5 separate regions of the Homo sapiens genome follow, and all the other regions are reported to be linked to region 4. The links are microRNA targets in miRTarBase. Many come from high-throughput screens and were not tested one by one. Region 4 holds a microRNA gene; each other region holds the end of a gene's coding sequence. Distances are from middle to middle.
What was found. The annotated mature microRNA hsa-miR-331-3p reads GCCCCUGGGCCUAUCCUAGAA and lies in region 4 at 1,416-1,436, opposite strand. An mRNA with a match to its seed (bases 2 to 7 or 8) in the 3' UTR can be bound and repressed. Matches are read on the target gene's strand: a 7mer-m8 pairs with bases 2 to 8, a 7mer-A1 pairs with bases 2 to 7 and ends in A, and an 8mer does both.

Region 1: the mRNA of MECP2 is a reported target of hsa-miR-331-3p. Seed matches in the 3' UTR shown: 7mer-A1 at 1,822-1,828, 7mer-A1 at 4,570-4,576 and 8mer at 5,079-5,086.
Region 2: miRTarBase lists DDX56 as a target of hsa-miR-331-3p. The part of its 3' UTR that is shown has no 7-base or 8-base seed match.
Region 3: miRTarBase lists HOXC4 as a target of hsa-miR-331-3p. Seed matches in the 3' UTR shown: 7mer-A1 at 3,939-3,945 and 8mer at 3,827-3,834.
Region 5: the mRNA of SYNM is a reported target of hsa-miR-331-3p. The part of its 3' UTR that is shown has no 7-base or 8-base seed match.

Annotation. Positions count from the first base shown.
Region 1 is chrX:154,026,209-154,031,295 of GRCh38, reverse strand. MECP2 (methyl-CpG binding protein 2) reads left to right here. Exons shown (of 3, transcript NM_001110792.2): 3 at 1-5,087. The coding sequence ends at 929. Among named protein-coding and RNA genes, the nearest start is that of MIR718, 8.8 kb to the right of the region's middle.
Region 2 is chr7:44,561,849-44,566,951 of GRCh38, forward strand. It overlaps DDX56 (DEAD-box helicase 56), which reads right to left. Exons shown (of 14, transcript NM_019082.4): 13 at 4,600-4,676; 14 at 3,956-4,231. The coding sequence ends at 4,154. Among named protein-coding and RNA genes, the nearest start is that of DDX56, 9.5 kb to the right of the region's middle. RefSeq lists enhancers at 1-403, 3,816-4,315 and a silencer at 3,751-3,962.
Region 3 is chr12:54,054,408-54,059,510 of GRCh38, reverse strand. HOXC4 (homeobox C4) reads right to left here. Exons shown (of 2, transcript NM_153633.3): 2 at 3,481-4,661. The coding sequence ends at 4,306. It overlaps FLJ12825 (a long non-coding RNA gene), which reads right to left and starts at 1,257. Exons shown (of 2, transcript NR_026655.1): 1 at 947-1,257. RefSeq lists an enhancer at 1,359-1,860.
Region 4 is chr12:95,304,813-95,309,915 of GRCh38, reverse strand. MIR331 (microRNA 331) reads right to left here and starts at 1,496; the gene lies at 1,403-1,496.
Region 5 is chr15:99,132,131-99,137,233 of GRCh38, forward strand. It overlaps SYNM (synemin), which reads left to right. Exons shown (of 4, transcript NM_145728.3): 4 at 1-3,463. The coding sequence ends at 928. TTC23 (tetratricopeptide repeat domain 23) reads right to left here. Exons shown (of 14, transcript NM_001288615.3): 14 at 4,193-5,103. Among named protein-coding and RNA genes, the nearest start is that of TTC23-AS1, 4.6 kb to the right of the region's middle. RefSeq lists an enhancer at 4,634-5,103.

The DNA.
Region 1 (5,087 bases), not on the chromosome of region 4:
CTCCCAAAGCTCCAGGAACTGGCAGAGGCCGGGGACGCCCCAAAGGGAGCGGCACCACGAGACCCAAGGCGGCCACGTCAGAGGGTGTGCAGGTGAAAAGGGTCCTGGAGAAAAGTCCTGGGAAGCTCCTTGTCAAGATGCCTTTTCAAACTTCGCCAGGGGGCAAGGCTGAGGGGGGTGGGGCCACCACATCCACCCAGGTCATGGTGATCAAACGCCCCGGCAGGAAGCGAAAAGCTGAGGCCGACCCTCAGGCCATTCCCAAGAAACGGGGCCGAAAGCCGGGGAGTGTGGTGGCAGCCGCTGCCGCCGAGGCCAAAAAGAAAGCCGTGAAGGAGTCTTCTATCCGATCTGTGCAGGAGACCGTACTCCCCATCAAGAAGCGCAAGACCCGGGAGACGGTCAGCATCGAGGTCAAGGAAGTGGTGAAGCCCCTGCTGGTGTCCACCCTCGGTGAGAAGAGCGGGAAAGGACTGAAGACCTGTAAGAGCCCTGGGCGGAAAAGCAAGGAGAGCAGCCCCAAGGGGCGCAGCAGCAGCGCCTCCTCACCCCCCAAGAAGGAGCACCACCACCATCACCACCACTCAGAGTCCCCAAAGGCCCCCGTGCCACTGCTCCCACCCCTGCCCCCACCTCCACCTGAGCCCGAGAGCTCCGAGGACCCCACCAGCCCCCCTGAGCCCCAGGACTTGAGCAGCAGCGTCTGCAAAGAGGAGAAGATGCCCAGAGGAGGCTCACTGGAGAGCGACGGCTGCCCCAAGGAGCCAGCTAAGACTCAGCCCGCGGTTGCCACCGCCGCCACGGCCGCAGAAAAGTACAAACACCGAGGGGAGGGAGAGCGCAAAGACATTGTTTCATCCTCCATGCCAAGGCCAAACAGAGAGGAGCCTGTGGACAGCCGGACGCCCGTGACCGAGAGAGTTAGCTGACTTTACACGGAGCGGATTGCAAAGCAAACCAACAAGAATAAAGGCAGCTGTTGTCTCTTCTCCTTATGGGTAGGGCTCTGACAAAGCTTCCCGATTAACTGAAATAAAAAATATTTTTTTTTCTTTCAGTAAACTTAGAGTTTCGTGGCTTCAGGGTGGGAGTAGTTGGAGCATTGGGGATGTTTTTCTTACCGACAAGCACAGTCAGGTTGAAGACCTAACCAGGGCCAGAAGTAGCTTTGCACTTTTCTAAACTAGGCTCCTTCAACAAGGCTTGCTGCAGATACTACTGACCAGACAAGCTGTTGACCAGGCACCTCCCCTCCCGCCCAAACCTTTCCCCCATGTGGTCGTTAGAGACAGAGCGACAGAGCAGTTGAGAGGACACTCCCGTTTTCGGTGCCATCAGTGCCCCGTCTACAGCTCCCCCAGCTCCCCCCACCTCCCCCACTCCCAACCACGTTGGGACAGGGAGGTGTGAGGCAGGAGAGACAGTTGGATTCTTTAGAGAAGATGGATATGACCAGTGGCTATGGCCTGTGCGATCCCACCCGTGGTGGCTCAAGTCTGGCCCCACACCAGCCCCAATCCAAAACTGGCAAGGACGCTTCACAGGACAGGAAAGTGGCACCTGTCTGCTCCAGCTCTGGCATGGCTAGGAGGGGGGAGTCCCTTGAACTACTGGGTGTAGACTGGCCTGAACCACAGGAGAGGATGGCCCAGGGTGAGGTGGCATGGTCCATTCTCAAGGGACGTCCTCCAACGGGTGGCGCTAGAGGCCATGGAGGCAGTAGGACAAGGTGCAGGCAGGCTGGCCTGGGGTCAGGCCGGGCAGAGCACAGCGGGGTGAGAGGGATTCCTAATCACTCAGAGCAGTCTGTGACTTAGTGGACAGGGGAGGGGGCAAAGGGGGAGGAGAAGAAAATGTTCTTCCAGTTACTTTCCAATTCTCCTTTAGGGACAGCTTAGAATTATTTGCACTATTGAGTCTTCATGTTCCCACTTCAAAACAAACAGATGCTCTGAGAGCAAACTGGCTTGAATTGGTGACATTTAGTCCCTCAAGCCACCAGATGTGACAGTGTTGAGAACTACCTGGATTTGTATATATACCTGCGCTTGTTTTAAAGTGGGCTCAGCACATAGGGTTCCCACGAAGCTCCGAAACTCTAAGTGTTTGCTGCAATTTTATAAGGACTTCCTGATTGGTTTCTCTTCTCCCCTTCCATTTCTGCCTTTTGTTCATTTCATCCTTTCACTTCTTTCCCTTCCTCCATCCTCCTCCTTCCTAGTTCATCCCTTCTCTTCCAGGCAGCCGCGGTGCCCAACCACACTTGTCGGCTCCAGTCCCCAGAACTCTGCCTGCCCTTTGTCCTCCTGCTGCCAGTACCAGCCCCACCCTGTTTTGAGCCCTGAGGAGGCCTTGGGCTCTGCTGAGTCCGACCTGGCCTGTCTGTGAAGAGCAAGAGAGCAGCAAGGTCTTGCTCTCCTAGGTAGCCCCCTCTTCCCTGGTAAGAAAAAGCAAAAGGCATTTCCCACCCTGAACAACGAGCCTTTTCACCCTTCTACTCTAGAGAAGTGGACTGGAGGAGCTGGGCCCGATTTGGTAGTTGAGGAAAGCACAGAGGCCTCCTGTGGCCTGCCAGTCATCGAGTGGCCCAACAGGGGCTCCATGCCAGCCGACCTTGACCTCACTCAGAAGTCCAGAGTCTAGCGTAGTGCAGCAGGGCAGTAGCGGTACCAATGCAGAACTCCCAAGACCCGAGCTGGGACCAGTACCTGGGTCCCCAGCCCTTCCTCTGCTCCCCCTTTTCCCTCGGAGTTCTTCTTGAATGGCAATGTTTTGCTTTTGCTCGATGCAGACAGGGGGCCAGAACACCACACATTTCACTGTCTGTCTGGTCCATAGCTGTGGTGTAGGGGCTTAGAGGCATGGGCTTGCTGTGGGTTTTTAATTGATCAGTTTTCATGTGGGATCCCATCTTTTTAACCTCTGTTCAGGAAGTCCTTATCTAGCTGCATATCTTCATCATATTGGTATATCCTTTTCTGTGTTTACAGAGATGTCTCTTATATCTAAATCTGTCCAACTGAGAAGTACCTTATCAAAGTAGCAAATGAGACAGCAGTCTTATGCTTCCAGAAACACCCACAGGCATGTCCCATGTGAGCTGCTGCCATGAACTGTCAAGTGTGTGTTGTCTTGTGTATTTCAGTTATTGTCCCTGGCTTCCTTACTATGGTGTAATCATGAAGGAGTGAAACATCATAGAAACTGTCTAGCACTTCCTTGCCAGTCTTTAGTGATCAGGAACCATAGTTGACAGTTCCAATCAGTAGCTTAAGAAAAAACCGTGTTTGTCTCTTCTGGAATGGTTAGAAGTGAGGGAGTTTGCCCCGTTCTGTTTGTAGAGTCTCATAGTTGGACTTTCTAGCATATATGTGTCCATTTCCTTATGCTGTAAAAGCAAGTCCTGCAACCAAACTCCCATCAGCCCAATCCCTGATCCCTGATCCCTTCCACCTGCTCTGCTGATGACCCCCCCAGCTTCACTTCTGACTCTTCCCCAGGAAGGGAAGGGGGGTCAGAAGAGAGGGTGAGTCCTCCAGAACTCTTCCTCCAAGGACAGAAGGCTCCTGCCCCCATAGTGGCCTCGAACTCCTGGCACTACCAAAGGACACTTATCCACGAGAGCGCAGCATCCGACCAGGTTGTCACTGAGAAGATGTTTATTTTGGTCAGTTGGGTTTTTATGTATTATACTTAGTCAAATGTAATGTGGCTTCTGGAATCATTGTCCAGAGCTGCTTCCCCGTCACCTGGGCGTCATCTGGTCCTGGTAAGAGGAGTGCGTGGCCCACCAGGCCCCCCTGTCACCCATGACAGTTCATTCAGGGCCGATGGGGCAGTCGTGGTTGGGAACACAGCATTTCAAGCGTCACTTTATTTCATTCGGGCCCCACCTGCAGCTCCCTCAAAGAGGCAGTTGCCCAGCCTCTTTCCCTTCCAGTTTATTCCAGAGCTGCCAGTGGGGCCTGAGGCTCCTTAGGGTTTTCTCTCTATTTCCCCCTTTCTTCCTCATTCCCTCGTCTTTCCCAAAGGCATCACGAGTCAGTCGCCTTTCAGCAGGCAGCCTTGGCGGTTTATCGCCCTGGCAGGCAGGGGCCCTGCAGCTCTCATGCTGCCCCTGCCTTGGGGTCAGGTTGACAGGAGGTTGGAGGGAAAGCCTTAAGCTGCAGGATTCTCACCAGCTGTGTCCGGCCCAGTTTTGGGGTGTGACCTCAATTTCAATTTTGTCTGTACTTGAACATTATGAAGATGGGGGCCTCTTTCAGTGAATTTGTGAACAGCAGAATTGACCGACAGCTTTCCAGTACCCATGGGGCTAGGTCATTAAGGCCACATCCACAGTCTCCCCCACCCTTGTTCCAGTTGTTAGTTACTACCTCCTCTCCTGACAATACTGTATGTCGTCGAGCTCCCCCCAGGTCTACCCCTCCCGGCCCTGCCTGCTGGTGGGCTTGTCATAGCCAGTGGGATTGCCGGTCTTGACAGCTCAGTGAGCTGGAGATACTTGGTCACAGCCAGGCGCTAGCACAGCTCCCTTCTGTTGATGCTGTATTCCCATATCAAAAGACACAGGGGACACCCAGAAACGCCACATCCCCCAATCCATCAGTGCCAAACTAGCCAACGGCCCCAGCTTCTCAGCTCGCTGGATGGCGGAAGCTGCTACTCGTGAGCGCCAGTGCGGGTGCAGACAATCTTCTGTTGGGTGGCATCATTCCAGGCCCGAAGCATGAACAGTGCACCTGGGACAGGGAGCAGCCCCAAATTGTCACCTGCTTCTCTGCCCAGCTTTTCATTGCTGTGACAGTGATGGCGAAAGAGGGTAATAACCAGACACAAACTGCCAAGTTGGGTGGAGAAAGGAGTTTCTTTAGCTGACAGAATCTCTGAATTTTAAATCACTTAGTAAGCGGCTCAAGCCCAGGAGGGAGCAGAGGGATACGAGCGGAGTCCCCTGCGCGGGACCATCTGGAATTGGTTTAGCCCAAGTGGAGCCTGACAGCCAGAACTCTGTGTCCCCCGTCTAACCACAGCTCCTTTTCCAGAGCATTCCAGTCAGGCTCTCTGGGCTGACTGGGCCAGGGGAG
Region 2 (5,103 bases), not on the chromosome of region 4:
GAAAGTGGCCATCATGGTCTGACCTGGCCACTGTGCCCACAGAGCACCTGGGACATTGAGGCGAGCCACAGCAGGATGCTGCGTGGTGGAGGCAACCCTTGGGGTGTTCGTCGGAAGACCCCCTTGATGTGCCTTGTTCTTTAGCCCACTGTTGCCACAGATACCCTCAGTGCATTCTACGCCAAACCTACTGCATCTCAGCAGGTTTGCGGATAGGCTGGAGGGATAACAAGACACTGGATGCATTGAGTTCTGAAAGCATTTCAGGATAAATAAACTAAATACTGTGCATTTGCCCAGTGTCATGCCTGGCACAGAGCAGGTCTGCTTGGCCAAGGCACCTTCCTCTCTGCAATGATGAACCACTCCTTCCCTTCCTTACCCTTGTAAACATGGCTGTGAGGAATGGAAGAGCAGCAACTCACAGCCTGTTCCACAAGGCAGGAGTCTTACATAATGATGTTCCTGGGGAAAAGGATGACAGCTGACGGGGCACCTTCCCTGCTCAAATTCAACTTTATCACCATTGCCTCTTGGGGCCCCGCCCCTGAAGTCCAAAGTCTCACAACTAATTCCCCCAAAGCTGAGTCATTCATCCTTAGCAGATGCAGGCAGAGAATCCGCTGGGCTGGGAATGCACCCTGAGCCTTTTGTGCTCCAGGTCCAGAGGTTTCTGGGCACACCACTGTCCTCCCATCTGCTATCACCAGCTATATCATCAGAATGCTGTTGGCCGGGTGTGGTGGCTCACGCCTGTAATCCCAGAACTTTGGGAGGCCGAGGCGGGTGGATTACCCGAGGTCAGGAGTTCATCCTGGCCAACATGGTGAAATCCCATCTCCACAAAGATACAAAAATTAGCCAGGCATGATGGTGGGTGCCTGTAATCCCAGCTACTCAGGAGGCTGAGGCGGGAGAATCGCTTGAACCCAGGAGGCGGAGGTTGTACTGGGCCGAGATGGCGCCACTGCACTCTAGCCTGGGTGACAGAACAAGACTCCATCTCAAAAAAAAAAAAAAAAAAAAGAAAGAAAAAAAAAAAGAATGCCCTTGTTTTCAAAAACCCTCCATCTTCTGTATCCTTTGAATTTTTAATATGTGACTATTACATTTTTTTAAAAAATCAAATTTTCAGCCCCCATTGCATATTTTGGTAACAACCCTCTGGTCTTTTCACCCTCAAATGTGCAGGGATCCCTCCCACCCCAGGGAATTTGCACATGCTGTCTCCCCTGCTAGGATTGCTGTTCCCTCCCACCCTTCCCATCTCAGCATAAACCTCACTTTCTCAAGGAAGGCAGCATTCTCTCCAACTGGGTGAGGGCCCCTTATAGCCCTCCAGTACCCTGAACTCCCAACATGACTATTGAGCAGTCTGCATTGGCTGACCATCTCTGCTCCTTGCCTCATAGACTGTGCCTTGTCCATCTGATTCCAGACCATAGCACAGTCCACACAGCCAGGCACCCATTCAGGTATACATGTGGGCAAAACTGTGCCAGCCCAGAGTGGAGAGGCCACTGCATTCTCCTGACCTTCCTGCTTCAGCCCAGGGCGTCACCAGCCTGAAAACCATCCAAGCTTCTCTGCTGTTTAGTGAAGCCTTAGGCTTCCACGCAGCATGTGCCACACCTCCTTCCTCCCTTCCAGGCCCACATGCCCTCTGTGCTGTTTGGCCCTGGACAGCCCTAGGTTCATTTGCCCATAGCACACATACCCTCATCCAAGGCCTGCCCCAGTCCTGATTTGCACATTTGTGCAAAGGGCACAGGCTTTGGCCAGACTAAGTCCAAGAGGCCAACCCTGAGTGCCTGTTTGTTCACACGTAAATGGGCACATGGTACCTGCCTCCCAGGTGGGGTGTTGAACGAGCCATTTATACTTACTTTCTCTCTGTAGTCTCAGGACACGAAGATGGACCTTCCTGTTCTTTATTTTTTAAAGATAGAGTCTCACGGCCAGGCATGGTGGCTCACGCCTGTAATCCCAGCACTTTGGGAGGCCGAGGTGGGTGGATCACCTGAGGTCAGAAGTTCAAGACCAGCCTGACCAACATGGTGAAACTCTGTCTCTACTAAAAATATAAAAAACTTAGCCAGGCGTGGTGGCGGCCACCTGTAATCCCAGCTACTCAGGAGGTTGAGGCGGGAAGAATTGCTTGAACCCAGGAGGCAGAGGTTGCAGTGAGCTGAGATTGCACCACCACACTCCAGCCTGGGCAACAAAGTGAGACTCTGTCTCAAAAAAAAAGAGAGAGAGTGTCTCAGTATGTTGCCCAGGATGGAGTGCAGTTGCGTGATCATACAGCCTCGAACTTCTGGGCTCAAGCAATCCTCCCATTCTTTCCAATGCCCTGGCCCCAGAGCGCCCACATGGTGCCTAACCCCACAGCAAAAGCCCCCGTGGTACCAGCTACTCCACCAGGGTGGACAGGCCAGAACCCAAATCTTGCAAAGAACCTCATTCACCAGGCAACTTCTAAGCCTCATCTTCCCCACCTAAAACATAGAAATAGCTTCCCCCAGGGATGCCGTTAGGAGGAAGGAATGTACACTTTGAACAAACAGCCTCCATATCTTTACCCAAGCTCCTCTGCTCCGGGCCCAGACCCTGCTATCCCCAGGCACGAATACAGCATAAGGCTGGCTCCATGTTCCTCTACCCCACCCCCCAAAGAAGGAAATCACTGGGGAAACCAATCTCCTCTCCATCAGGGTGGCTCTGGGATACAAGCTCTTGGTAGGGTGTGCTTGGAAGTGACAGGGTCAGAGAGATAAACATAGTGGAGACAGACTGTGCATCACTTTAGAACACAGCTTGGCTAAAACATCCAGAGCACTCACTGTCCCCAGGACCAGCCTCAGCACTCCATGAAGCCAGGTGGGAAGGCCAACCTAGGGCAAGGACCAGGCCTCAGCACTGCAGGCACTCTCTGCCCTGTCTTGTCTTCCAAGAGGTGGCAGCGATGCCCACTGATAGGGTCTGTGCAGTTGACAGATGTCTCCCAGCAGATGCTCAAATGGTTGCTCTTTATCTCCAGTTCCATTAACTCTTTGTCCTTCTGAATACTGCTAACCACCAAACTGCAAGAATATCGTCTGCAGCTCCTTAGCAGCTCTAGTTCACACCTGCCCAGAAAGTACCACTGTCCTGCCCCCATCATACACACTGGCTTCGTGGAAATCCTTGGGTGTTAACAGAAGAGGAGCAGGGATCATGGAGGCCCCAAATCTCGGGTCCTGCTAGCTTCAGTCCTACCATGACCAAAGACACAGACTCCTTCGTCTCTGTATAAGCTTTTGCCGAGAAAAAACTTGGTTCTTTCTAAAATACTCAGGCACTCTCCTAGTTTCTCCCCACTCTCCTGCTGCCCCAACCTCCTCATGCCCCCAGCATGGCCTTGTGACGCCTGGTAAGCAGGTGACATGCAATCTAGGACCCCAAGCCAGCAGAGAAGCCCAGCCTTCAGGCTGAGAAGGCAGCTGGAGAGCTCAGGCCAGGGCATAAGGGACAGTACACATGTGTGTATGTCACACCACCGCTTATGCACATAACACACAGACACAGCTCACACATCAACAGTTGTTCAGAAAGGGACCAGCAGATAGCTGCCCCGGCTCCTCTAAGGAAGAGCAGGCAGCTTCCCCCCGAATCTACATGTGCGTGTGCTCGGGGAGAGGAAGGCTGGCGGTCAGGAAGGCCCATCTCCCAGCCTGATCCCAGGCAGCAGGGCTGCAGGAGCTGGGCAGGAAGGCTCTGGGCCGGCCATAGCCACCTGCCAGCAAGGGCAGGCTTCTCTTCTCATGGCTGGGGCAGCTCGGCACAGCTGACCTCTGCTGGCCAAGTGAAGCACTGCATGCAGCCACAGAGCCAGGCACAGCTGTCTTCCGAAGTTTCCCGACTCCTGATGTTTTGGGGATTCAAATAGTCCTTTTCATATGCTGGAGGCACAAACTGGGGCAGCTAAAATTTTTATTCTGTTGTCAAGGGGCAAGATGCCAGCTTGGAAGTGCCAAGGAGCTAAAGGGCCCAGCACTGCCGGCCCCAGAACTGTCTGTTCAGGCTGTGCAGTAAGCACCAGAGCCTCGCCTGTCCACGAAGGGTGTAAGCCTGTGCTCCACAATGTGCTCAGCTCCAGAGAGGCCCAACAACCTCAGGAGGGCTTGGCTGTGGGTCTGAATTTCTTTCCTTTGTGCTTGAAGCTGCGCAGTGGGTTCTGGGACTTTGCTCTCTAAGGAGGCAAAGTCACAGGTTAGTTGGGGGAATCAGGCCGACAGACAATCCACCCACCCACCCACCCAACTGAGAAAGACACAAAGGGAGCCGTGCCGGCAACTGGCCAACACGACCAGAAGGTGCTGCAGATAAGGAAATGGGGAAAGGCAGCTGGGGAAAGAAAAGCAGGGCCTGCAGGCGGCTGCAAAAGTACCCCTATCCCACACCAGATTTTTGGGGCCCGGTTCTAGGGTGCCCCCTCTTCCCCTCCCTAGGGCACCCTCTCTTCCCCTCCCTAGGGCAAGGCGCCTCCACATTCTGGTGATGACAAAAGAGCAGGTTGGGAGGAGTCCTGGGGCTGTCCGCAGTCCCCAGGAGCCGTACCTTGGCCTTCCTACAAGAGGAAGACAGCTTCTTCCGCTTCTTGTGAGGGCGCACCAGGCCACGGAGAGCAGGAGGAACTGGAAGAGATGCTTGCCTGAGCAGTGGGCTCACCGCTACTGCTCCCATCCCTGCCCTCCCGCTGATTCTGCAGCAAATTCTCCAATTCTGACCCAACTGGCAGCCTATGACATACATCTATTCACTACCACATCTGCACAGGGCCAGGAGAATGTGAGCACCTTAGACTTCCACTATTTAAATCACTCTCCTATATTGTTTAGATTTGTTACAACAAACATGTAACAAGAAAGAAAAAGACAGACATCCTTAAAGAAAGAAAATGCAGCTGAAATAAAAGTCAACAGGTAGTTTCTTCACCTGTGGCCCATTACTACCGATACAGGGGGCCCCGCATCCCAGCTGCACCTGATCTTGGCTCTATCTTCACCTCGCCCACCCCATGGACTCCCCCAGGCCAACCACACCTGGGCCCTCCCCTTCAAA
Region 3 (5,103 bases), 41 Mb from region 4:
AGACTTTTTTTTTTTTTAACAAATCCCCCAAATGTTTATTTTGGGCTCCTGCCCATCCAGATAAATCAAGCTAACAGATTAGGAAGTTCATAAAATTGTATTCTTAGGTAATGACATCCAGAGAGGTAATAAATATTCCCTCTGCTCTGGTGGCCGCTGGAGTTCTGGTGTTCAGGGATCTTCCATCTCTCATTCCAAGCCTGAGAGGGGTCTCTTGGAAGGGGAACATTTAAATTAAAATTAGCTCTCCATAGGTGCAGTGCCAGATAGAAGCTGTGGAAAACCCGGAGCGGTGGTTTTGTGAGTGCAATAGCTTGCTCCCCCAGGACTGGGCAAAAGGCAGAGAAAAAGATGGTACAGTTGCTCCAGCGCACTGCTCCTCCCCGTCATAGCACCCTTGATCTTAAGGGCCCCTTTCAGAGTCAGTCTCCCCTAATCCTAGAAAAGCAGAGAAGGACACCCTGGCTCCAAGCTCCCAGCAAACCTTTTAATTGTTTTCACTTCCCTACAACTCCCCCCAACACACACACACACACACACACACACACACACACACACACCCCTAGCTGTGGGAAGCTGTCTCTGGATTTCAATCTGCCAAGTCCAAGCAGAAAGAAAACTGAAGCACAGATTGCAGAGAAAACTTTGTAGGAAACTTCACACAAACAGCAGCAAGAGACCCTCGGAAAGGCAAAGTGCCCCAGTCCTTTTCCCTCAGTCTCACTTTCTCAGACTCTCTCTTTTTTGAGCCAAATTTCTTTACTCCCCAGGTACACAGACTCAGCACAGAACCGTCTTTTTCTCCAAGCAGAACCCCTCCGCTTACAATTGGATTTCCCGCCTTCCCTGCCTAAGACCGGGAGTTGAGACAAAAATTGAGTGGCAAATAAGAGTTTAAACTTTTGTGCTCCTCACCCCCAGAGCAGACCGAGTGCTAACTACTTACGTGTCAATGGGATCTTTGGCCTGTGGGGATCTCCTGGCGCTTGGAGAGAAGGAACCCTGGAAGATTGGTGTCGACATTTCACCCGTCTTCTTTTTACTTAGCCATTGAAGAGAGAGGGATACAATGCACTTACAGGCATTCATGCGCCTTGCCTCTCCCATTACTCTGGGCAAGAAATCCCCAGTCCTACAAAAGCAGTGGCATCCTATCTGGAGACCAGGGCTGAGCAAGGGCTGGCTTGGGAGGGTCAGAGATGGGGGTGGGGGAGAGGTCAGAGGCGCTGCCGAATATAAAGGCAATGGGAGAGAAAATGCTGTGTCCTCCCCGTGAACCTGGGCTGTGTCCTCCCCCCAGCCTTTCCCCACTGCTCAACCCAACTTAAATAAAAGCCCAGCCCTCAGCTTCCCAGCGAGGCTGTAGCAGCATCAGGCAGAGCAGCAGGGACCAAGACTGCTGGAGCTTGGGGCCCTCGGCCCAGACTGGCCCCCCACATCCCAACCCTGCCATGCCATTCTGGGTTGCCAAGTCCAAGGCAAAGGAGAGCTTTGGGGAAAGGGGAGAAAATGGAGCCCACTGGAGGGAAGGCCAGAGGCCAAAATCTTCAAACTCAAATGTAAGGGATTTTAGTTTGGGTTCATTTGTCAAGAATTATGGATTTCTGATGTTTCCCCTTTTCAGACCAGAAAGAACAGAAGGAGACACATGCAGAATGACCATGTATGTGAGGGAAGAGGAAGGAGAAGAAACAGAAGACATAAAGAAGGGGAAATAAAATAAGTGTTCTGACCCTTTTATGCTGCTTTTCCTGAACTAGAGTGTCCCTTCTGCAATTTCAGGGAGAAACTTAGGAAATAAAATGTAGTAATTTTCCCCCTCCTCACTCTCATCTCTTCCACTTTCAGGAGGAGAGGGATAAACTCCCTGAAAGCCACGCGAGCAAACTTAGGAAAGAACCATGGATCTCAATTTACCCCTTCCCTGCTTTCCATCTTAGCTCCTTTACAGGCTTGAAAAGACACCCTGGTGCCCTTAGACCTTCCTTCCCTTTTCCTAAGCACAGCTAGAACCCCCTTTTTCTGTTCCAAGGGCAATCGCCTCAAGACGATAGGGGCTACAGTCAGATTTGGCCCCTAATTCACTTGATTACATAAAAAACTCCAGATAATTGTTGGCCTGCCTCCTCATACTGTAGGCAGCATGTTTTGTTGTCTCCAGGGTACCACTGAGGGAGGAAAAGTAGACCTAAAGGACTAAGAGACTCCCCCCAACACACACACGTGTGAGGGCATGCATACACACACACACACACACACACACCAAGTAACAACCAGCAAGTGGTTCAAAAGGAAATAAATTCAAAGCACACCAATGTGATTTGTACAACTTAGTCCTGCTGTTGCCTTTCACTCCAGAATTTGGGGATAGGGGGAAGGGGTATCCCTGGCTTCCCTGCATACCCTAGATCTCTTCTCCCTCTGTCTTCTACTTCTAATTGCCTTTCTTCCTGAAATATGGATAAATCGTCCGAGAAGAAGGTCACCAACAGCCCTCCTCCCACCTTCTCCTAACAAACAAGCAAAAAATTAAGCAGGCCTTGCTAGGGCCTGGATCTCAGGACCAGAATTATTTGGGAGCCTTTGGCTTGAATGTATTCAGGTAATCCAGGCAAGATTTTTTGTTTCTTTTTTAGCCCCAAGGAAACAAATTTATTTAATTAATTTATTTCTTTACAGCCAGAGAAACTTGTTCAGGCTATCCCCATACGCTGCCAGGACCTGGGAGGTTATAGGAAGAGAGGGTGGTCCTTGACTCTCCCTAAGTCTCTTCGCAACACCTGGCAGGTCCATAATAAAAGTTAGAGAATAAAAAGGTAAAAGTCTTTTATTATCTCCAGGCATCAGCCTTTGAGGCCTATCCATAACAAGGGTACCTCCCAGGCCTCTGGCCAGTCTTTTTTCCAAGCCTAAACAAACAGAGAAGGCATCCTGACAGGTGACTTTGCTGCTTCAGAGTCACCAGCTCAAAACCTTCCTTCTTTTAAGAACTCAAATGTTGAGGGGATGTCTTCCTTAATCCCTCATCCCAAAAGAGCCCTAAAAGATGAAAGAAAACTATTCTCCTTCCCACTCCCTAAACTTGCCCCCTTGTCTACAAAGTAGGCAGGCCTACTCAGCACAGAGGAGGGAGAAGGGAAGAGAGAGAAAAGACAAAAAGAAGAAACTGTACCTAACTATAGAAAAGTGAGACACTCCCCACCCTCAGCTCCACTGAAGTGCCCCCAGAGGAGTCTGGTCTCTCTGCAGACTCAGGGGGAAGGAAGGGGACTGGAGAAATCAGCCTTAATCTTCCACATCCCCTCTTCTGAAGATCCCATACCCCAACCCCCTTGCTTGTTCTTCTAAGGACATTGGAAGACTAATGGAGAGCTAAGATTTGTGTGTTTGTTTAAAGTAAACTTAGGCAACTATAGAGAAGATGGGATGTTACCAGGCCAGAGAGGGAGGGGAATAAAAAGAAACCATCAGACATTGACGTAAAACTAATTCACATCCACTGGTTTATTATTGATCACGGGGCATTTCACATCGACACTAAAATTCTTTATTGCAAGTTTTACAATAATCAAGTAAATTCAGTCCAAAAACACAATAACCACGATAGGGGTGGGGAGAGATTCTACCTATAGACTGCCTCTCTGAACTGAAAGTTCATTTTGATTTTCTTTTGGCTCCTCAAACTGAACAGCTCTGAGAGGCTCTCCAGATGCATTTAGCTTTGTCTGCTGTCTTCGCCCCCTCTCCTCCCACACCCCCCCCCAACAATAATACAAAAGAACTTCATAGCTTTGTTCTCCTTAAAATGACTTCCCCCTCACTAACCTCCCCTGGTGCATTTTCAATGCAAAAGGCCTAAGGAAAGAGGGGGGGAAGGAGGAGGAGGAGAAGGATGAGAATTGGCTTTAAAATTTCTTTCCTTTTTTCTTTTCCTCATTTCCCCTGAAATTCACCCAAGCCAGACCATCACACCTTGCAATATATAATTTTTGCAGCTTTTTTTCTTAAAAAATAAATAACCCCCCAAAATGGCCTTTTAAAAAAAAACACCCAGCAGGTACCATGCTAAGACAACATCACATGCTTAAAAGGGTCCTTAACAGTGGGAGGGAGAGGAGGGCAGGGGGCTTGTTTGTTTATCTGTTTTGTCTGTTTGGAACTGACAAGGGACAAGGTGAGAGGAAGAGAGAAAAGAACCTATATATATATATATATATATATATATTAAATTCTATAAATAAGAGTCAATTTGTGTGTGAGGGGAGGGTGGGGGCATGGGGTGGGGGCAGGGGTGTGAGTTATGTTTTATAACCTGGTAATGTCCTCTGCCCGTTGCTGCTCCGGCGGCGTGGCGCTCTGGGAGTGGTCTTCAGAAGTACCCGGGGTAGCTGCCGAAAGGGTGCTGGGCGCAGCGCCGGCCGGGGGTGCTGACCTGACTTTGGTGTTGGGGAGTCGGTGGTCCTTCTTCCATTTCATGCGACGGTTTTGGAACCAGATTTTGATCTGCCTCTCAGAGAGGCACAGCGAGTGGGCGATCTCGATCCTTCTCCTTCGGGTCAGGTAGCGGTTGTAATGAAACTCTTTCTCTAATTCCAGGACTTGCTGCCGGGTATAGGCTGTCCTCGAGCGCTTGGGTTCCCCTCCGTTATAATTGGGGTTCACTGGGGGGAGGGGAAAAGCAAATAGTGGGGTTCAGAGGCAGCAGGCTCCCCGCCCCCCACCCTCACCCCATCCTCAGCTCTGAGAAACAGGAGGAGGGAGTGGTGGAAATAAAGTCATCAAGCTTAAATGGGTTATAAAGAAGTTGAAGGAAGCTGAAGACTTTGTAGTGTAATAAGAGGGGAATCCTCATTGTAACGACACTGAATTATTTATGCGCCCTTAGAAAGCGAGCATAGTTTTCACACATACATAACAGATCGTAGCACATGGCTCGGACTGCCCAGAGTAGCTAAGCCATAAAATTTATGGGGGATGTAATTACCCATTCTCGCTCGTAAATCCAGTTCAATTGTGCTAACCCAGAGTCGCTCCTGGAGAGAGAGGGGGAAGGAGAGAAAGGAGGACGGGGGCCAGAGGGGGCCGAGGAGGGTGGGGAGCGCT
Region 4 (5,103 bases):
ATATATAAAACACAATTAATCAAAAAGTAAAAATGAAAATACCTCTGAAAGAATATTCTCAAATGATATTTTTTAAAAATCACAGTTTAACACTCAACTAAGTGTCTGGATTGAATGTAGACTTCAAAAACTTACTACGTAAACAAGCTATAACTTTTTAACTCTTCACAAATTCCTATTTTCAGTGTTCATAATGAACAAGGTTTAAAAAAGTGGAAAGGCTCCCAAAATACTGAGAACATATATGTATATAAATCAAGGATGGGTTCACTCATTTCAAGCTATGTCAAGAAGTCTATGGGATGAAGCATGTCTGTTGTGATGGATATAGTACAGAACTAACTCCACGGCTGAGTTCTTCAGAGTGAGCCTCTGTAGGCTCATAGTCCTATTTTAAAGGAATAACCTATTGACCCAATTTGCTGGTGTTATAAGCTTGGAGGAATAGCACAATTTCAAGTTCCTTTCACAGGTGGAGTTTCTGATTAGTCTGTGGTTATTTGAAACATGGTCTACACCTACTGCAGAAGCCAGCATTATTAAAAGCATACATTTTCATTGTGCACCATAACTTTTGGATTTGGGGTCGTTTCATACTTTTTCAGAAATACTGTCTTCTAAATTAAACAGAAAAACATCTATGTGAATATAGCGATGCAACAGTTGTGATATGAGACCATGTGATGGATCAACTAGGTCAGAATATTTGTAAAATCCAGAGTGGCAAGGAATAAAAATAGAGAAACTTACTAAAAATCTTCTACAAAATAGTGATGTAAAATGTGACGTATTAACCAATTTCTACTGTGTCATTCTAGCTTGTTTTCATTAACCATAGCAGAACTTCTAAAAGTGAGCTCTAAAATGTGGCAAATTTGATAATAAATTAAGGAAAAAGTCATTAGTCTCCAAAAACAAGAATTGAAAATCATTTGGCACTGAAGCCAGATGGCAAAGACTAAATGCTCTTCAGAAATTATGAACAATTATTCAGTTACATGAGACTGACATAACAGTGTCAAGTAGAAAAACATTTAAGAAAACAGAAACCATTAAATTTGGGGGAGAGTTTAATTTGGAGGAAGAAGTTGATTTTGGGGTTTTTTAGGGCTAAGTTGCTTCAGCTAAAAATATAGAACTGATAATAAACAAGAATAGCTCTCTTCACTGGCAATAATATCTGTATGGAATTTCTATTGCGAGAAATTACTATAATGCCAAAGGCTGGGAAGACTTTGTTACCCAATGTCATCCCTCTAATTTTAGAAGGATTAACCAACCAATTTTTGCTAAAATGTAGGCACACATACCAAAAAATGTGAATCTTGGTGAATATAGGATGTCTGGTAGGCCTCAGGTTATCTTCAGTCTTCACACTCTTGATGTTCCAGGAATGATGCGCGAGCTTAGGTTGGTTCTAGGATAGGCCCAGGGGCCTGGTTTGATCTGGGATCCCTGGGACCATACCTAGAACAAACCCAAACAAAACCAAACTCCTTGGGAGTGCTTTCAGCTCAGGTAGACTTCTGGGCTTTTCACCCATATGGACCTCCACGACTGTACCAGGACCATATACCAACCTTTAAGGGATGGGAGTGACATTTCTGGAGCCTTCTGTACGTTGTCAGCTGATAGTACTGTGCCTGAGTAAGCATTATTTAAGTCATGGTATGAACAGAAGGTAACAGATTGGTGCAATAAAAGTGCAGAAAATACTTTGATTTAGAAATGAAGTTAATTTCCTTAAGAATTTACTTAAGGAAGGGGAAAAGGATATGCTTTGTTTAGGATATTATAAAAGAGTAAACTTATAAAAGACATGCTTTAGTTTTAGAAAAATTCTTCAATAATATTCATTTGTAGGTAGCTAAGCTTTAGGAAATGATATAAAACTGAAAAACATAAAGCCTAAAACAGTAAAATTATCCTTTAAGAAAATCTTAGGATATAAATAGGAGAGGAAATATATATATCCATAGCCATATCTCACAGAATATACTGATTTTAAAGGATAATGCAGTCAAGAGAATATGCAGCTTAAATACTGTACTATTGCAATAATATGTTGCTAAATGAAGTTCAATACATAGAGATAAAACTAATTTCATTGCTGACAAGCTAAAATACATTAAAATATATACCATAAAAAATACTATATGCACTTTAATTTATCACACATTTCATTTTCCTTCTTTTTTTTTTTTTTTTTTTTTTTGAGACAGAGTTTCACTCTTGTTGCCCAGGCTGGAGTGCATTGGCACAATCTCGGCTCACCAAAACCTCCGACTCCCAGGTTCAAGCGATTCTCCTGCCTCAGCCTCCTGAGTAGCTGGGATTACAGGCATGAACCACCATATCCGGCTAATTTTGTATTTTTAGTAGAGACGGGGTTTCTCCATGTTGGTCAGGCGGTTCTTGAACTCCCGACCTCAGGTGATCCGCCCACCTGGGCCTCCCAAACTGCTGGGATTACAGGTGTGAACCACCACGCCCAGCCCATTTTCATTTATTTATTTTTGAGACAAGGTCTCTCGTTCTGTTGCCCAGGCTGGAGTGCAGTGGTGCAATCATGGCTCACTGCAGCTGTGGCCTCCTGGGCTCAAGTGATCCTCCTGCCTCAGCCTACTGAGCAGCTGGGACTACAGGTGTGTGCCACCACATCCAGCTAATTTTTAAGTTTTTCTGTAGAGACCAAGTCTTGCTGTTTCTTGCCTAAGCTGGTCTTGAACTCCTGGCCTCAAGAGATCCTCCTGCCTCAGCCTCTCAAAGTGCTAGGATTGTAGGTGTGAGCCACTACGTCCTAGCTTATCACACATTTTAGAATATCTATAAAATCAGTTCCTCCTTATTCATGCTAAACTTTTACATGTGTGAATCCTTGAATCAATTAATCCTCTTTTTGGTTTACAGCAATTACACTGAATAGAATCACTTTCCTCTCACAACTACACTCAGAAGTTTTCTTCTTTTATCACTGACCTGGCTTTGGTATCTTGACTATCTCTTCTATAATGGCAGTCTCAACTCAAGAAACTGGTTTGGACCACCTATCTTTTTTTTTTTTTTTTGAGATGAAGTCTTACTCTGTCACCCAGGCTGGAGTGCAATGGCGCAATCTCGGCTCACTGTAACCTCCGCCTCCCGGGTTCAAGTGATTCTCCTGCCTCAGCCTACTGAGTAGCTAGAATTATAGGCAGGTACCACCACCACGCCCGGCTAATTTTTGTATTTTTAGTAGAGACGGGGTTTCACCATGTTGGTCAGGCTGGTCTCGAACTCCTGACCTCGTGATCCACCTGCCTCGGCCTCCCAAAGTGCTGGGATTACAGGCGTGAGCCACCGCGCCCAGCCTGGACCACTTATCTTTTATGATTATTATACCACAGATCCCTTCCATTAGCATGGATAACTGAATGCCGACTATGAGGCATGGTCATAAAATAAACAGACTGATTTGACAGTTACTTTGTAATGAAAACATGAGTCAATATATGGTTACTAAAATAATCAGCATGTTGCTAAAAATAAGTTGTTTGATGCTAGGATATCCATTTCTATACAGATTTGACTTTTACTTGTAAATATTATAGTGTGCAAATTTTATTTTTCATTCAAGAGAGAAAAGTGATCCTGCTTAATTATTAAATATTAAATTACAATTTAATCATGCCCAGTACAGAATGACAGTGGGAATTTAGTCATTCAAATATCTGCCAATATCATTAGATCTAACACTGATAACTTTTGGTAAGCTTTTAACGTCCGCTTACTATAGCTGAATAAAAATAAAGACCCTGTTTTTAAAACTAGCATAATCAAAAAATAAATTCTTTGTGGTATAATTGCCTATAGTCTATAAATTTTATTACTTCTCAGGTCTCTGTGACATTAATAGTGAATGTTTTCTTATTTTTCAGGGCTTAATCTATTTTCATGTCTTGGAAATGAAGATACATTTCTCTCTTAAAAAAAAAAAAAAAAAAAAAAAAAAAGCCGGCTGGGCGCTGTGGCTCATGCCTGTAATCCCAGCACTTTGGGAGGCCAAGGACGGCAGATCACAAGGTCAGGAGATCGAGACCATCCTGGCTAACACGGTGAAAACCCATCTCTACTAAAAATACAAAAAAATAGCCGGAGTGGTGGCGGGCGCCTGTAGTCCCAGCTACTCCGGAGGCTGAGGCAGAAGAATGGCGTGAACTTGGGAGGCGGACCTTGCAGTGAGCCGAGATTGCACCACTGCACTCCAGCCTCGGCAACAGAGTGAGACTCTGTCTCAAACAAAACAAAACAACAACAAAAAAAAAGCCAAAGAAATTCTTAACAGCATGTAGTCTCCAATTCAAATAGAAAATACTATAGAAAATGCTAACTTGAGTGGACCAGTTTTAATCAGCGCCAAATAATTCTAGTATAGAACTAACTTTAGAGAAAGTAAAGTATGTAAACAAAATAGTTCCTTTTGTACCATAACAACTTTTCTATTTTGAGAGCAGGTATCTAATTCGGTAGCTTCACTTATTTTAACGATAGCAATGAAACAGGTAGTAAAGTAACAGATGTCACAAAATCCATGCATTTAAGCATAATCCACTTCCTCAAGTCTTCACTTTGAGTTTATTTATTCTTACTTTACACAGAAGTCTAATAAACTTAGTTTGTCTGGTCTCCAAAATGAAAGCAGATCAGAAGGCACATTATGAAGGTGGAGAAGGGCTACTGCTACAGGCACACTTAAGCAAGCAGTAATAGAAATGGAAGAATCAGAACGACTGTTAAAGACATGAAAACTAAAACGAGTACAGCAGAATGGAGCCATTTAGTACAGGGACAAACAGCTCTCAATGTCTGATTAGTCTATCAGATTATAATAAGTGATGTTAATGCTGATCATTTTGATACCAAACAAATTAAAATACATTCATATATTATTTAAGACAGTAATGCATATCAATTTTATGAAGATTTCCTTCAGAGATTATTCCAAAAAATTTTAGGGCTGAAAGAGGTTCAAGCTCTGCAGGAAACTGGGATATCTAGAATGACTCATTCCCCAAATATTCAAGTTACCCAGTTCTTACTAAATTAGCCATCTTTAGTCTCATA
Region 5 (5,103 bases), not on the chromosome of region 4:
TACCCAGACTTCTGTCAGGCAACTCCAGTTAGGCCCTAAAGAAGGGTTCAGTGGGCAAATCCAGTTCACAGCTCCACTTTCAGACAAGGTGGAGTTGGGTGTCATAGGAGATTCTGTACACATGGAAGGGTTGCCAGGGAGCAGCACATCCATCAGGCACATCAGCATTGGGCCTCAGAGGCATCAGACCACCCAGCAGATAGTTTACCATGGGCTGGTTCCCCAACTGGGGGAATCTGGTGACTCAGAGAGCACTGTGCACGGAGAGGGCTCAGCAGATGTGCACCAGGCCACTCACAGTCATACCTCGGGTAGACAAACCGTTATGACTGAAAAGAGCACCTTCCAAAGTGTCGTTTCTGAATCTCCCCAGGAGGATAGTGCAGAGGACACATCAGGGGCAGAAATGACATCGGGTGTTAGCAGATCCTTTAGGCACATTCGACTAGGTCCTACAGAAACGGAAACCTCTGAACACATTGCCATCCGTGGACCCGTGTCCAGAACATTTGTGCTTGCTGGTTCAGCGGACTCCCCTGAGCTAGGCAAGTTAGCAGACAGCAGCAGAACGCTAAGGCACATTGCACCAGGGCCCAAAGAAACTTCGTTTACCTTTCAGATGGATGTGAGTAACGTAGAGGCGATCCGCAGCCGGACACAGGAAGCGGGAGCTCTCGGTGTGTCTGACCGTGGTTCCTGGAGAGACGCGGACAGTAGGAATGACCAGGCAGTTGGTGTGAGCTTTAAGGCCTCTGCTGGGGAAGGAGACCAGGCCCACAGAGAACAGGGCAAGGAGCAGGCCATGTTTGATAAGAAGGTGCAGCTCCAGAGAATGGTAGACCAAAGGTCGGTGATTTCAGATGAAAAGAAAGTTGCCCTCCTCTATCTAGACAATGAGGAGGAGGAGAATGATGGGCATTGGTTTTAATAAGCAGAAACATTTTGTTTTAATGGCAGCCTGTTGGCGACGTGCCAACATCCAAAGGCCTTAACTTATTTTAAGAGGCCGAGGGAGTCTATGAAAATCTCCCCTTTTTTACTTTTTTAAAGAGTACTCCCGGCATGGTCAATTTCCTTTATAGTTAATCCGTAAAGGTTTCCAGTTAATTCATGCCTTAAAAGGCACTGCAATTTTATTTTTGAGTTGGGACTTTTACAAAACACTTTTTTCCCTGGAGTCTTCTCTCCACTTCTGGAGATGAATTTCTATGTTTTGCACCTGGTCACAGACATGGCTTGCATCTGTTTGAAACTACAATTAATTATAGATGTCAAAACATTAACCAGATTAAAGTAATATATTTAAGAGTAAATTTTGCTTGCATGTGCTAATATGAAATAACAGACTAACATTTTAGGGGAAAAATAAATACAATTTAGACTCTAAAAAGTCTTTTCAAAAAGAAATGGGAAATAGGCAGACTGTTTATGTTAAAAAAATTCTTGCTAAATGATTTCATCTTTAGGAAAAAATTACTTGCCATATAGAGCTAAATTCATCTTAAGACTTGAATGAATTGCTTTCTATGTACAGAACTTTAAACAATATAGTATTTATGGCGAGGACAGCTGTAGTCTGTTGTGATATTTCACATTCTATTTGCACAGGTTCCCTGGCACTGGTAGGGTAGATGATTATTGGGAATCGCTTACAGTACCATTTCATTTTTTGGCACTAGGTCATTAAGTAGCACACAGTCTGAATGCCCTTTTCTGGAGTGGCCAGTTCCTATCAGACTGTGCAGACTTGCGCTTCTCTGCACCTTATCCCTTAGCACCCAAACATTTAATTTCACTGGTGGGAGGTAGACCTTGAAGACAATGAAGAGAATGCCGATACTCAGACTGCAGCTGGACCGGCAAGCTGGCTGTGTACAGGAAAATTGGAAGCACACAGTGGACTGTGCCTCTTAAAGATGCCTTTCCCAACCCTCCATTCATGGGATGCAGGTCTTTCTGAGCTCAAGGGTGAAAGATGAATACAATAACAACCATGAACCCACCTCACGGAAGCTTTTTTTGCACTTTGAACAGAAGTCATTGCAGTTGGGGTGTTTTGTCCAGGGAAACAGTTTATTAAATAGAAGGATGTTTTGGGGAAGGAACTGGATATCTCTCCTGCAGCCCAGCACCGAGATACCCAGGACGGGCCTGGGGGGCGAGAAAGGCCCCCATGCTCATGGGCCGCGGAGTGTGGACCTGTAGATAGGCACCACCGAGTTTAAGATACTGGGATGAGCATGCTTCATTGGATTCATTTTATTTTACACGTCAGTATTGTTTTAAAGTTTCTGTCTGTAAAGTGTAGCATCATATATAAAAAGAGTTTCGCTAGCAGCGCATTTTTTTTAGTTCAGGCTAGCTTCTTTCACATAATGCTGTCTCAGCTGTATTTCCAGTAACACAGCATCATCGCACTGACTGTGGCGCACTGGGGAATAACAGTCTGAGCTAGCACCACCCTCAGCCAGGCTACAACGACAGCACTGGAGGGTCTTCCCTCTCAGATTCACCTGGAGGCCCTCAGACCCCCAGGGTGCACGTCTCCCCAGGTCCTGGGAGTGGCTACCGCAGGTAGTTTCTGGAGAGCACGTTTTCTTCATTGATAAGTGGAGGAGAAATGCAGCACAGCTTTCAAGATACTATTTTAAAAACACCATGAATCAGATAGGGAAAGAAAGTTGATTGGAATAGCAAGTTTAAACCTTTGTTGTCCATCTGCCAAATGAACTAGTGATTGTCAGACTGGTATGGAGGTGACTGCTTTGTAAGGTTTTGTCGTTTCTAATACAGACAGAGATGTGCTGATTTTGTTTTAGCTGTAACAGGTAATGGTTTTTGGATAGATGATTGACTGGTGAGAATTTGGTCAAGGTGACAGCCTCCTGTCTGATGACAGGACAGACTGGTGGTGAGGAGTCTAAGTGGGCTCAGTTTGATGTCAGTGTCTGGGCTCATGACTTGTAAATGGAAGCTGATGTGAACAGGTAATTAATATTATGACCCACTTCTATTTACTTTGGGAAATATCTTGGATCTTAATTATCATCTGCAAGTTTCAAGAAGTATTCTGCCAAAAGTATTTACAAGTATGGACTCATGAGCTATTGTTGGTTGCTAAATGTGAATCACGCGGGAGTGAGTGTGCCCTTCACACTGTGACATTGTGACATTGTGACAAGCTCCATGTCCTTTAAAATCAGTCACTCTGCACACAAGAGAAATCAACTTCGTGGTTGGATGGGGCCGGAACACAACCAGTCTTTTTGTATTTATTGTTACTGAGACAAAACAGTACTCACTGAGTGTTTTTCAGTTTCCTACTGGTGGTTTTGATATTGTTTGTTTAAGATGTATATTTAGAATGACATCATCTAAGAAGCTGATTTTGCTAAACTCCTGTTCCCTACAATGGGAAATGTCACAAGAATGTGCAAAAATAAAAATCTGAGGAAAAAACCCACATTGTTCCTAAAGAGAATGAATATTTTCAGTAGATTTTGATGTTTCCTTTAAACTCTAAGTAAAGAATCTGTGTGTTTACATGCATGTTTTTAGGGTAGCAGAGAATTACTGGGCAGAATATATATGAAAAGTTCCAGTTCTCTAATTCCTCACCTGAATCGGAACTCAATATTGGGAGCACAGAGCTAGAAAGCCTGGCAGACAGAGCATAAGCCAATTGGCTTGTAATCAAATATACACTGGACAATTTGTGGTAAAAATGTCATCATCACAGCCTGAATGACTAGTGGCAGTAGGACACCACCAACCATCCCATTTGGGATGGAGAGGTTTCTTGGGATGTGGTACTTTGAGTGCTAAAACCAGGACTGTCCTGGGCATACCAGGACAGTTGGTTACCTTATAAGTGCAAATTGGAGGGTTAACCCTAAGGCATGGCCATTTCTTAGGGGCTTGAAAAAACTGAGGTAGTTTGAGACAAAGGAATAGCTAGATATCTTTACCCGTTTGTAACCTTGTAGCCCTTTACCAAAAATAGAAAAACACAAGTAGCTATAGTCTTCCTCTCGTTGAAGTCAACAGAATTAACAGATGGGAGACATTGGAGGGAACATTCCTAAATTCATTGCTTCCTGGGGTGGGGTGGGGTGGGGGCGCTAAATTTTAAAAATGTGTTTTAGTTTTTGTGATTCCAAGCTACGCTTCAAGAAGTACAGAAAGGAAGAAGTAACATCAGAATTCACATTTATTTCAAAAACTCGGCATGGACTCTCAGTTCAGGCTGCTGTAACAGAAAGCCGTAGCCTGAAAGGCTTAAACAACAAACATTTATTTCTTACAGTTCTGGAAGCTGGGAAGTCTCAAGGTGCCAACAGTTTCATTTCCTGGTGAGGGCTCTCTTCCGGGCCTGCAGACGGCTGTCTTCTCACTGTGTCCTCACATGGTGGAGAGAGAGATCATCTCTCTGGTGTCTCTCCTTATAAAGCACTAATCCCATTCATCAGGGCTCCACCCTCATAACCTAATCACCTCTCCAAGACCCCACCCCCAATACCATCCCTTTGGGGATTAGGGCTTCAACGTGAATTGGGAGCATATGAACATTCACCCCTTAGCTGACTCCACCCATGTCAACTAGATAGGACACACGGTGAGTAGTGACATCTTACACGTTTTTAGCACACTGCTGATGTCCGACAGGCCTGGGTCTGGGACCAGTGTGTACCAGCAAGCATGGTCTGTGGGGTCAGCTGTCACGCTCCTGAGGAAGACAATGGTCCCTGCTTCTCTCCACCCTGTCGTGGCTCTACTGAGTTTATTTTCCCCATCAATACTGGAGGTGGTGCCCTGCACAAATGGCCCCAGGGTGGTTTTGATGTCCCACTGGGGGCTGGAGGGGAGGGCCCTGTGCTGCAATCTGCTGTCATAGCACCAGCCTGCAGCCTCATGGCCACAGTCTGTGGGACCAGGGGAGGGAGGGGAAGGGACATCACTGCCCACACCTGCACCCCTACCCCTGGGTGTTCCATCCACCTCGATCTGGCACTGGATCTCCTCGTTGACATCGTGGAGGAAGGCACTCAAAGCTTCCTGTTCGACTTTGCCATCCTCACACGACTATGGCCTCCTTCCAGGGGG